2 separate regions of the Homo sapiens genome follow, and region 1 is linked to region 2. The links come from fine-mapping of genetic effects on plasma protein levels. A gene starts in region 2. The other region holds a variant in brackets. All regions are shown on one strand. Distances are from middle to middle. Region 1 overlaps SCLY (selenocysteine lyase). Region 2 holds the start of SCLY (selenocysteine lyase).

Evidence for each region. PIP is the posterior inclusion probability: the model's chance that the variant is causal. The UK Biobank Pharma Proteomics Project read protein levels with antibody pairs (Olink). The fine-mapping took linkage between variants from a reference panel, not from the people measured, so its PIPs are less certain.
Region 1: its variant is fine-mapped to the plasma level of the SCLY protein (UK Biobank, PIP above 0.99).

Annotation. Positions count from the first base shown.
Region 1 is chr2:238,093,161-238,098,499 of GRCh38, forward strand. It overlaps SCLY (selenocysteine lyase), which reads left to right. Exons shown (of 12, transcript NM_016510.7): 9 at 701-784; 10 at 1,260-1,362; 11 at 3,641-3,716; 12 at 5,042-5,339. The coding sequence ends at 5,195. It overlaps UBE2F-SCLY (UBE2F-SCLY readthrough (NMD candidate)), which reads left to right. Exons shown (of 19, transcript NR_037904.1): 16 at 701-784; 17 at 1,260-1,362; 18 at 3,641-3,716; 19 at 5,042-5,339. Among named protein-coding and RNA genes, the nearest start is that of ESPNL, 4.5 kb to the right of the region's middle. RefSeq lists enhancers at 1,014-1,683, 1,684-2,351, 3,020-3,687, 3,688-4,356, 4,357-5,024 and 2 more. The variant C/T (reference allele first, on the strand shown) is at 3,836.
Region 2 is chr2:238,058,297-238,063,663 of GRCh38, forward strand. SCLY (selenocysteine lyase) reads left to right here and starts at 2,705. Exons shown (of 12, transcript NM_016510.7): 1 at 2,705-2,847. The coding sequence starts at 2,759. All of the region lies in intron 8 of UBE2F-SCLY (UBE2F-SCLY readthrough (NMD candidate)), which reads left to right. RefSeq lists silencers at 2,115-2,324, 2,465-2,914.

The sequences.
Region 1 (5,339 bases), 35 kb after region 2:
TACCGGCCTCATGTCCATTTTCATGGCCACCAACCCTAGACCAAGGGTCTGGATGCCTGCCATGGCCTCCTGGGGGCCTGCTGCTGCCATTTTCCACACGGCCACAGAATGACCAACAGACAGGCCAGTCAGACCATCGCATCCCTCCCTCAGCCTCACTGCGTCTGCCCCGTGGCCGGGCCTGCAGGGCCTGTCGATCTGTCCCTGCGCCTTCACCCCCTCCACACTCTCCACCCGCCACGCCAGGCCCCTCTGTTCTAGAGACAGAATGTCTGTCTGTCCCCTGCAAAGCCCTTGCTGGGACGCCATTCCCTGCCCTTGTACAGCCATCTCTGTCACCACCCCACCTTGGGCCTGCGAGGTGCCTTCACAGCGCCAACTGGTGGGTAGGAGTCTGTTCCCCTCTTCCCCTGCTTTTGTCCGTCTGCCTCTCTGGGATGCTGGCTCCTCGAGGGAGCCCTTTCAGGGCTGCTTTGCTGAGGCATCTCCAGTGCCTGGTGCTGTCAGGAGGTACCTGGTGAAGTCAGTTTCTGGGGCACTTCCACACCCTCCAAATGGCAGCACTCAAAAAATATGGTCTGTCTGTGACTGTCAGGAGAATGAGCAGTTTCAGGAAATGCCACCTGTACCGTTGAAAGCTTTTTGGCCCTCCTTTATTTTGCAAGAATTGTGCATCCACTTGTTGTGTGTCTGCCCCCAGGCCGCGGAGCTGGTGACCCAGAACTGCGAGGCTTATGAGGCCCACATGAGGGACGTCCGCGACTACCTGGAAGAGAGGCTGGAAGTGAGCGCAGCGTGGGGTGGGCACCAGGAGGGGGAGGGTGCGTGGGGCAGGTGCCCAGAGAGGAGGGGTGTGGTGCTCCCAGACCCCAGGACCTGTGGGGATTGCAGCGTAGCCTGGAACTCAGCAGGATGCAGTGAGGGAAGAAAGAACAGTGGCAGAAAGTACATTGGGATCTGAAACCCCGAAAGCAGGACCCTAGGCCAGGGGCATGATCTTTTTCAGAGACACAGGATCAAATATGCAGAGGTGGTATACCTCATGGTTTATGTGGAAGGTTCATATGTTTCTGAATATTTGGTTTTTCTCCTAATTAACTTTGCTTTCCATAGTCCGTCCCCGTAACTATTCTGGGTAGATGCTGATTGAAAAGTATGCACCTGCTGAAGTTGTGTTTCTGGAAAAGTCTAAATTTCAAACAGTTGCTGGTGGTGGTGTCTTTGAAGCTGTCACCAAATATTTCACTTATTTTTTTCAGGCTGAATTCGGTCAGAAGAGAATCCATCTGAATAGCCAGTTTCCAGGCACCCAGCGGCTTCCCAATACCTGTAACTTTTCCATCCGGGGACCCCGGCTTCAAGGTGATGGCCCCTCACCCTGGTCTTTCCGAGTGTGAGCACAGCTCCCTCGGTGCGTGGATTCTGGTCCGAGCCAGTGACTCCCACTCGCCCTGCCCTGAGCATGACACAGCTCGGGCTGTCAGAGGGCCTTGCTGGGGTTGCCAAGAGCAGGCTCGGGTGGCTGTGCTGTGGTCCACAGGGCTCTCGCCGCTGGCCCCTCCTCTCCCTGACGTGGCTCATTTTGCTGCTGCTGGGATGTGGACTGTGGCAAACTCTCGTGTCTGGCATTAGCGCCACCCCAAAAGCCGTCAGGGAAGGAAGCAACATTAAATTCTAGACATTTGTCTATTTTGTTGGCAGTTTTAATTAAATATTTGAGTGAGGGAAAGGGGAGGTGATCAGTTTTAAAAACTGGCAGAGGCTGGGCACAGTGGCTCGTGCCTGTAATCCTAGCACTTTTGGAGGCTGAGGCAGGCTGATCACAAGGTCAAGAGATTGAGTCCAGCCTGGCCAACATGGAGAAACCCCATCTCTACCAAAAACTACAAAAAATTAGCCAGGCATAGTGGTGTGCACCTGTAGTCCCAGCTACTTGGGAGGCTGAGGCAGGAGAATTGCTTGAACCTGGAGGTTGCAGTGAGCCATAATTGAGCCACTGCACTCCAGCTTGGGTGACAGAGTGAGTGAGACTCTGTCTCAAACAAACAAAAAACAACAAAAATAACTGGCAGAGTAAGGATCAAGTGCAAATCTGGATTTCCTGCAACATCTGCCTCGGCTAGGAGCAGTTAGGATCACCCCCGTCCCAGATGCACCTAAAACCTGGTCTGCCCTGACTCCCTGAGAGTGGAAGTCCAGGTGATTGACCAGCCGCATGTCATTTGGGAGGAGGTTATAGTGGCCCTGAGATCACGATGAGCTGCATCTGTAAACAAGTTTTTGACTTCTTAGAAGATGAAAGTGTTGCTTCTTTCTTCTTCCTGGATCACGCAGAGAAACCCAGCAGTCGTGTTTGGCCCATGAAGAAGAACCCGTGGGTAACCGTCATGATGGCTGCGTTCATGAGAACCTGGGCTGAAATGCGTTCTTGTGGGCAGTGAAGCCTGGGTCTCCTTGACCATCTCAAATTCCTCACCATGGAAAGGAGAGTTCTCTGTCAACGTTCCCCTTGTTCTGGGGTCAGACTTTGTGTTCAGTGACAACCTGTGTTACTTTAAATGAGACAGAGGTTCTCATTTTATTTATTTATTTTTTGATTCAGGGTCTCACTCTGTCGTCACCCAGGCTGGAGTGCTGTGGCGCAATCACAGCCCACTGTAGCCTTGACCTTCTGGGTTCAAGTGATCCTCCTGCCTCAGCCTCCCTAGTAGCTGGGACTACAGGCATGCACCACCACACCTGGATAACTTTTTTTTTTTTTTTTGAGATGGAGTTTCACTCTTATTGCCCAGGCTTGAGTACAGTGGTATGATCTCGGCTCACCACAACCTCCACCTCCTGGGTTCAAGCGATTCTCCTGCCTCAGCGTCCAGAGTAGCTGGGATTACAGGTGCCTGCCACCACGCTGGGCTAATTTTTGTATTTTAAGTAGACACGGGGTGTTGCCATGTTGGCAAGGCTGGTCTCGAACTCCTGACCTCAGGCGATCCACCCACCTTGGCCCCCCAAAGTGCTGGGATTACAGGCATGAGCCACTATGCCCGGCCTTGGCTAATTTTTAAAAAATATTTTGTAGAGATAGGGTTTCCCTGTGTTGCCCAGGCTGGTCTCAAACTCCTGGCTCAAGCAGTCCTTCTACCTTGGCCTCCCAAAGTGCTGGGATTACAGGTGTAAGCCACTGCACCTGGCTGAAATTCTCAGGTTAATTACATCAGCAGTCATTAATGGCTGTGCTTGTGAAAGAAGAGGGAAATGCCTTCTGGCTTAATAGAACTCCCACGTGTCTCTACCATCCAGAACACAGGTGGAGACGTGATATTGCCGGGGCTGCCAGCTTGTAAGGAAGGAGCGGGTCAGGACTCCAGGTGTCTTAGCAGGCAGTTGATTACAAATGCGATTTTCAAGGCCAGCTTTGTGAGGCAGAATAGTGTCTGCGTTTGTGCAGCCAAGGGAGAAAGGAAGCGTTTTCTTCGGCTCCTGCTGTGAGATCTCTCCCCAGCTGCCAGAATGGCCAGTGCTGGAATTCCACCAGGTGGCACAGAGGGAGGGAAGCAGCCTGCGCCCAGCAGGACCCCGGGAAGGGACAGAAGGGCAACCTGGCTGGAGCCCCATCTCAGGGGCATGTGCTCTGTCTCCGCAGGCCACGTGGTGCTTGCGCAGTGCCGAGTGCTGATGGCCAGTGTGGGGGCCGCGTGCCACTCGGACCACGGGGACCAGTAAGTGCTCTTCACAAACCCAGTCCAGGGCATAGGGGTCCTCCGGGCACTGGGTGTGGTGGGCAGGCGGCAGGATCCGGCCACTGGGCCGCACTCTGGCTGGTGAAGGACAGCCCTGT[C/T]TGGGCCCTAGGAGGGGCAGAGGGAGGGCTTCCTGGAAGAAGTGACTTCCAAGCTGCCATCTGAAGGACTAGGACTTGTGCGGGAGAAGAGGGCTTCTCGTGCTCAGTTCTGAAGGCGGAGGGAGGGCAGGGCCTGGAGGGCCAGCGTGGCCGGGGCTGGGGAGGGCTGGGGCGGGCTGGGGTGGGCTGGGGTGGGGATGGCCTGAGTGTCAGTGCTTACTTAAACCTCATGGAAGTGGGAGCCCTGAGGGCCATGGTGTGAGCAGACTCAGGTGTCAGATCAGCCATCTGCAAGATGCAGCAGAGATTCTCAGATAGCAGGGCCCGGGTGAGCGGGTGGGCTGCCTGGCGGAGACTGTGGGGTAGAGGGCGTGGGGTGCCCGAGCAGCGGCCTGCTGGCAGCAGGGGAGAAGTGGTTCTGGGTCTGGTCTGCTGAAAACGTGAGGCCCCTGTGGGAGGTCGGAGTGGACGCAGGAGGAACACTCAGGGTTCTGGGGAGAGAGCGGAACTGTAGCCAGCAGCACGTGGCCATCAAGGTCAGGGCAGAGGGATTGTGCAGGAGCACCTGGAGCGAGACAGTGGTGGGCCTGGCTCCAGGGAAAAGGAGGGGCAGGATGGGGCCCTTTGTTGGGGGGACAGTGCCCTGCTGCAGGAGGGGCAGGGGAGGAAAGGGACCCGGGTGTGATGAGGTCAGGCCCCTTGACAGAGCCCACATCTCGAGCCTCCAACAGCCTTGCTTCAGGATGTCCCCACGCAGTCATCTGTTCATGGCTAGATACTGACTGGGTCCCTAGTGTCTGCAAAGCCCCATGCTAGGTGCCATGAAGTTACCAAGTGGCTCAGGTGGGCCGCATGGGTAAGGCACTGTCTGTGTCGGCATCCGTGTTCTCCAGGACCTCAGACCCCTCAAGGACAGGAGAGCCCCTGGCCCCAGAGCTCAGTGCGAGAGGGAGGCAGTGTCACCTGGGAGTGCCAAGTGCAAGAGAACTCTGCAGGGAGAACGGGGGCGACTTTGAGCCACACCTTGATGTGGGTGATCTTAGGGGTGTGCTTGGTCTGGGAGTTTAGCAGGAGGTGGATGCCAGGCGAGGCAGGCGCACATCCGGGTGGGCAGAGCCCCACTAGGGGAGTGGTCCAGAGCAGGGGGGGCTGTGTCTCTTCCATGTGCCCTCAGCAGCAGCTGCAGCTCGGTCTCGCCCTCCCCAGGCCGTCCCCAGTGCTGCTGAGCTACGGTGTCCCCTTCGACGTGGCCAGGAACGCGCTCCGGCTCAGCGTGGGCCGCAGCACCACCAGGGCCGAGGTGGACCTCGTCGTGCAGGACCTGAAGCAGGCCGTGGCGCAGCTGGAGGACCAGGCCTAGCACTGGGGCCGCCTTCCCCACCCCGCTTCTGGGAAGCCCGTGGCAGGGCACAGGGTTGTCCCTCCAGTTCCCTCCTGAGGGCTGTGCCAGGATGACTGTCTCATGCCCCCTCTGCATTTTGTCCTGGAGTGCCAGCGAGTGTGC
Region 2 (5,367 bases):
GGGGCTCCCACAGTGCAGCGGTGGGCTGAAGGGCTCCTCAAGTGCCACCAAAGTGGGAGCCCAGGCAGAGGAGGCGCCGAGAGCGAGCGAGGGCTGCCAGGGCTGCCAGCACGCTGTCACCTCTCACTATCTTCATGGAGATGCCATTCCTCAAATGTCTGGCCACTATGGGGCACTTGTGTTTGTATTAGAGACATCTTGGTAGGTCATCTGTTGCATGTGTGACCAGTATACTTGGAATGGTGGTAGCTGCTGCTGCGTGTTGTACCCTAAACTGTTTTCAGCTGGGCTACCTCAGCACCTGGGCTTCTGTATGTTTGTACTCAATTCTTTCGGGGTATCACCAGCCATGTTGGACACTATCTTGTCTGACTCCACCACTACACTCACTATGTTCACCTGGAAACACAAACCTTATTGCTGCCTAACTGGCCCAAGGAGTGCTTGGGATGAATCGTCACTTTGTCCATTGTCCTTGGGCTCCTATCCTTACAGCCTTCCAAACAGATTTAGAGAATGAATTCTCCCCATGCCTATCAACTTCCCTAGCCACCTTTACTCTTAACTTCATCCCCTATCGTCTCCTCCAGGACTTTGGCTCCTCTTCCTTGCACGTCCTGTTGGCTAACTCCCTTTAGCCTATGAACATGTTCAGTCTCTATTTGCTCTTAATCTTTTTTTTTTTTTTTTTTTTTGAGACGGAGTCTCACTCTGACTCCCAGGCTGGAGTGCAGTGGCATGGTTTCAGCTTCACTGTGTAACCTCCACCTCCCAGGTTCAAGTGATTCTCTTGCCTCAGCCTCCCCAGTAGCTGGGATTACAAGCATGCACCACCACAGTCGGCTACTTTTTGTATTTTTAGTAGAGACGGAGTTTTGCCATGTTGGCCAGGCTGGTCTCGAACCCTTGACCTTAGGTGATCCACCCACCTCAGCCTTTCAAAGTGCTAGGATTACAGGGGTGAAGCACCGCGCCCAGCTTGCCTGTAATCTTATACGCCTTTTTAATTCCTCCTTTCTCAACCGTTTTAAGAGTTGACTGCATTCTTCATTTTTTCATATCCCATCTTTGCATTCTAACTTCCATGCCTCTCCCATCACTGAGACTTCTCTCGCTAGTTTATCAGTGCCTCCTAATTGTTACGCACAGTAGACTTCGGATTGCCTCTCAGCCACACTTTACACTATTATGTGTCTTCTTGACTTTTTTGACATTCCTTCTCAATTCCCTTTCCTTTCCTCCTCTTTTGACTGTTCTCATGCTCCTGTGCATCCATTTGCTTCTTAAATGTTGGTGGGCCCTTTGCTATTGGCTGCATTTGGCAAGAAATGAGCTGCGTTTATAGGGAAGAATGAGAGAGAATGAGTCCAGAAATTTGCAGATTTGCTGTGCTGGAAAAGCCAAGTTATTCTGGACCCCAACAGGACACAAAATAGAGAAAGCCCATGAAAAGCCAATTAAAATTCAACCTCTTGGCAAAGCATGCTTGAAACCGAATTTTGGCTCCAGCCACTACTCGTGTGAACTTGGGCAAGATGCCTTTCTGTATCTTGGATTCCTCATACATAAATACCTACCAGACTGGGTTAATCATCAAGATTAAATTAGTGAACACACGAAAAATACCTAGAACACTGCCTGGCATAGTTCAAGGCTCAATTAAAGGTAGACACTATTATGCCAAAAAAACAAAAAACAACAAAAAAAGTGACGGTAGGATGGCTTCGTGAGGATTTTTGCTCATTTCTACCACTTTCTCAACTGACTTTTCTTAATGGTTGGCGGGACACCAACCATTGGTGGATGTTTACACTTGTGACTGTCTCACAGACAACTCAACATGTCCAAAGCTAAACCCATCATCTTTCCCCCTCCCGTCTTCCCTCTTACCCAGATAAAGGCACTAACATCTTCCCAGTCACTTGTCTAATCCTTGCTTCCTTCCTGTCCCTCATGCCCCAATTCCTATTTAACGGCCTAAACAGATCTTGAATTAATCTTTCCTGCGTTTCCACGCCCACTTAGAGTCCCTCATCTCTGGCCCTATTTTCTCAATGCCCTCCCATCCTCTACTCCAGATCCCCTCAAGTCCATCCTCGATGCGTGACTCTTAACTTCACGCCATCCAGGTCCCCTATGGAGCCGCTCCGACTAACGGACGCGCAGGTCCAGCGGACCTGCTCATCACTGTCCAGGGTGGCCTGCGGGAGACCCCCGGGGCCCTGGCCCTGCTGCCGCGGCCCCGGCACTTCCCCTCGAGGGTTCGCGGGGAACAAGGCCGCGCGGCCCCGGCTCTCCCGGAGTGCACGGTCCCGCGCTCATGCGGCTAGAGGGAGGCACCCGCAGGACTGCCCAGCCGCCTCTGCTCCTCAGGTCCAGCTCGGGCCCCGCCTGCTCTTACGCCGACTAACCGGCCGCGGCCCGATGGCGGCCCTGCCGCAGACAGCAAAGGTCACGGGGCTCCCCCGGAAGTGAAAGTGCGGGGATCCGCCGGCCCAGGAGACGCGGCTTCTAGCGCCCGGTTCCCGGGAAGCTCTGTGACGCGCTAAGCCCCGCCCCCACCCGTCACCTGACCCAGCGCAGCCTCGCCTCCCCGCTGGGGGCTCGGCGGCCCTCTGAAGCGGGTGGATTGGCTGGGGTGCTTCGCTCAGCCAATCCGGACGCGCCCGGGCGTCGCGGCCCCGCCTCCTCCCCGGCGCTCTGGGCCCGTAGCGCTCCGCGGGAAGGAGGCTGGATGCCCGGCAGCAGTGGGGCGGGGATGGAGGCGGCCGTGGCGCCGGGGAGGGATGCGCCGGCACCCGCGGCGAGTCAGCCCAGCGGCTGCGGGAAACACAACTCGCCGGAGAGGTGCGCGCCTTTAGGGCAGGGCTGGGGAGCGGCCGGCGCCTGTCGCCGATTGTCCCGCGCGGGAGGACGAAGGGGGCTCCCGGCCTGTGGCCGCTCTCGCGTGGGGCGTCCCGCGCGGGGATGTCCGCGAGGTCGGCCTAAGTCAGGGATGCGAGCTTCAAGGAGGAGCGGGTGCGAGCTGTGGCCCCGCAAGGGCCCACGGAGAGGTGACTTTGGGGCCGAAACCCGAGTGACTTCCAGGGGTGAGGTTTGCAGGTTCTGGGGAAGCAGAGCCTGCCAGGAAGAGGGCACAGCAGATGCGAAGGGCAGGGGACTTGCCGGAGGTGAACCGGCAGAGCCCCTGAGCCCGGGAAGAACTTTGGGGTTCATTCGGAGCCTTATGGGGCCTCGGAAGTTGATCACGGGGCGATGCAATTTAAGTGTTTTGAAGGAGTCCTTCTGGCTGCTTCCTAGAAAGTAGGGGCGCGGGTAGGCATGGGACGAGAGGAAGCCGGGAAGCCAGTTGGGGATCTTGTAACAACCTAGGAGAGAGATGTGGTGTGCGCCCAGAAACGGATGCGTTGGTAGGAAGCTGGTGCACTGGGGCAGGTGAAAGGGAATCAAGGGTTCTCCCAGACTGCTGGCCCAGCTGCAGGAAACGGGATGGCCACCGCTGAGAAGCGCGGAGACCCGAAGCACGTGGTATCCATACTAGTTAAGTCCGAGAAGAGCAGGAGGCAGGGGTATGCATTTTCTGGTTTGTGTGTCTTCTTTCCAGACCCCTCTTTTTCCTTTTTGTGAGCTCATTCGCTACCCATGCTTAGAATATGAGGGGGTCCAGGCCTAAAGCACACACATTTGGCATTCTACCTTGGTTGGAACAAAGTGAAGGGATCTGGGAAAATATCCCCTAGGGAATCAGTGGAGCGAGATTCCCAAGATTTTTTATTTTTTGGTTATGAAGCTAACAAAGTTGAGCCTGCTCATCCAATACTGATAGCATTTTAAGGAAGCAGCAAATAATGAAGCAAAGGAATGTGTAAAGTATTAATCTGAACAAAATAGATTTGTTCAGCCCAGCAGCAGATTGAAGAGCTACAGTCGCTCAACAAACACTAGCTAGCCTAAGGTACTTTGGATGCTTATTTATAGGAAAGAAAAACAGATATAAGGGCACATGCAAAGTCAAGCCGGGCTGGGGGATTCCTAGGACTATTAATACTAGTACCAGAGTGGTAAAGGATGGCGAGTCAAACTTGTCAAAGCCTTGTACCTATTGAGTGATTTTTTTTTTTTTTTTTAATTGAGATGGAGTCTCACTCTGTCACCCAGGCTGGAGTGCAGTGGTGCAGTCTTGGCTCACTGCAACATCCACTGCCCGGGTTCAAACGATTCTCCTGTCTCAGCCTCCCAAGTAGCTGGGATTACAGGCACGTGCCACCACGTCCAGCTAATTTTATTGTATTTTTAGTAGAGATGGGGTTTCGCCGTGTTGGCCAGGCTGACCTTGAACTCCTGACCTCAGGTGATCTGCCCGCCTTGGCCTCCCAAAGTGCCGGGATTACAGGCGTGAGCCACAGGGCACAGCCTGTTGAGTGATTTTGAACAGAAAAGATGCTTCATTTCAACTAATGCACATTCTGTCCACACTCAGTGGCTTAACAGCCACAGTTAGTCATTGTATCTGGGTTTTCATGTGGATTGGTGTAAGCACTGTTTATTTAAAAACTAGATAAATTAATATCAGGCAGGACTACTACTACACATTTTTCTAAAGGCTTTCGAAGGTTTTGGATATTAGTAAAAAGATATACAGATAAATTTTACTTAGTGAGGGATCTTTCAGGGAATTTGTACTTTCTGTGGCATTTATTTTGTCATCTTATAAAAATCAGGCCCCTGTTGTGTGGCAACCATGGGCTTCAACATTGGTGACAGGGCAGTGAGAAAAACAGAGCCCCCATGCCCATGGAGCCATACTTCTGTTACTCTATTAAGGTAGACAGTAAGGGAACAAGTCTGGTATGTCAGATGATGATGCTGCCCAGAAAGGAAGGCGGGAAGGGGACCTGGAGGCTGGGGAGGTAGGGACATAGGTGGCTGCAGTTTTGTGGGTTTGTTTTTTTTGTTGTTGTTTTTTTTTTTTTTGAGACGGACTCTCACTCTGTTGCCCAGGCTAGAGTGCAGTGATATGATCTCGGCTCACAGCAACCTCTGCCTCCTGGGTTCAAGCAATTCTTCTGCCCCAGCCTCCCTAGTAGGGCTAATGTTTGCATTTTTAGTAGAGATGGAGTTTCACCATGTTGGCCAGGCTGGTCTCAAACTCCTAACCTCAAGTGATCCACCTGCCTTGACCTCCCAAAGTGCTGGGATTATAGGCGTGAGCCACCGCGCCCAGCCAGCTGTAGTTTTAAGCAGAGCTGCAGGGCAGGGGGTCTCACAAGAGGACTAAGTTGGAACAAAGACCTAAAAAAGTAAGGTGGGGGCAGGGCATGTAGTCTTTCTGGGCAAAGAAACTGAAAGTGCAAGGTCTGGGGCCAA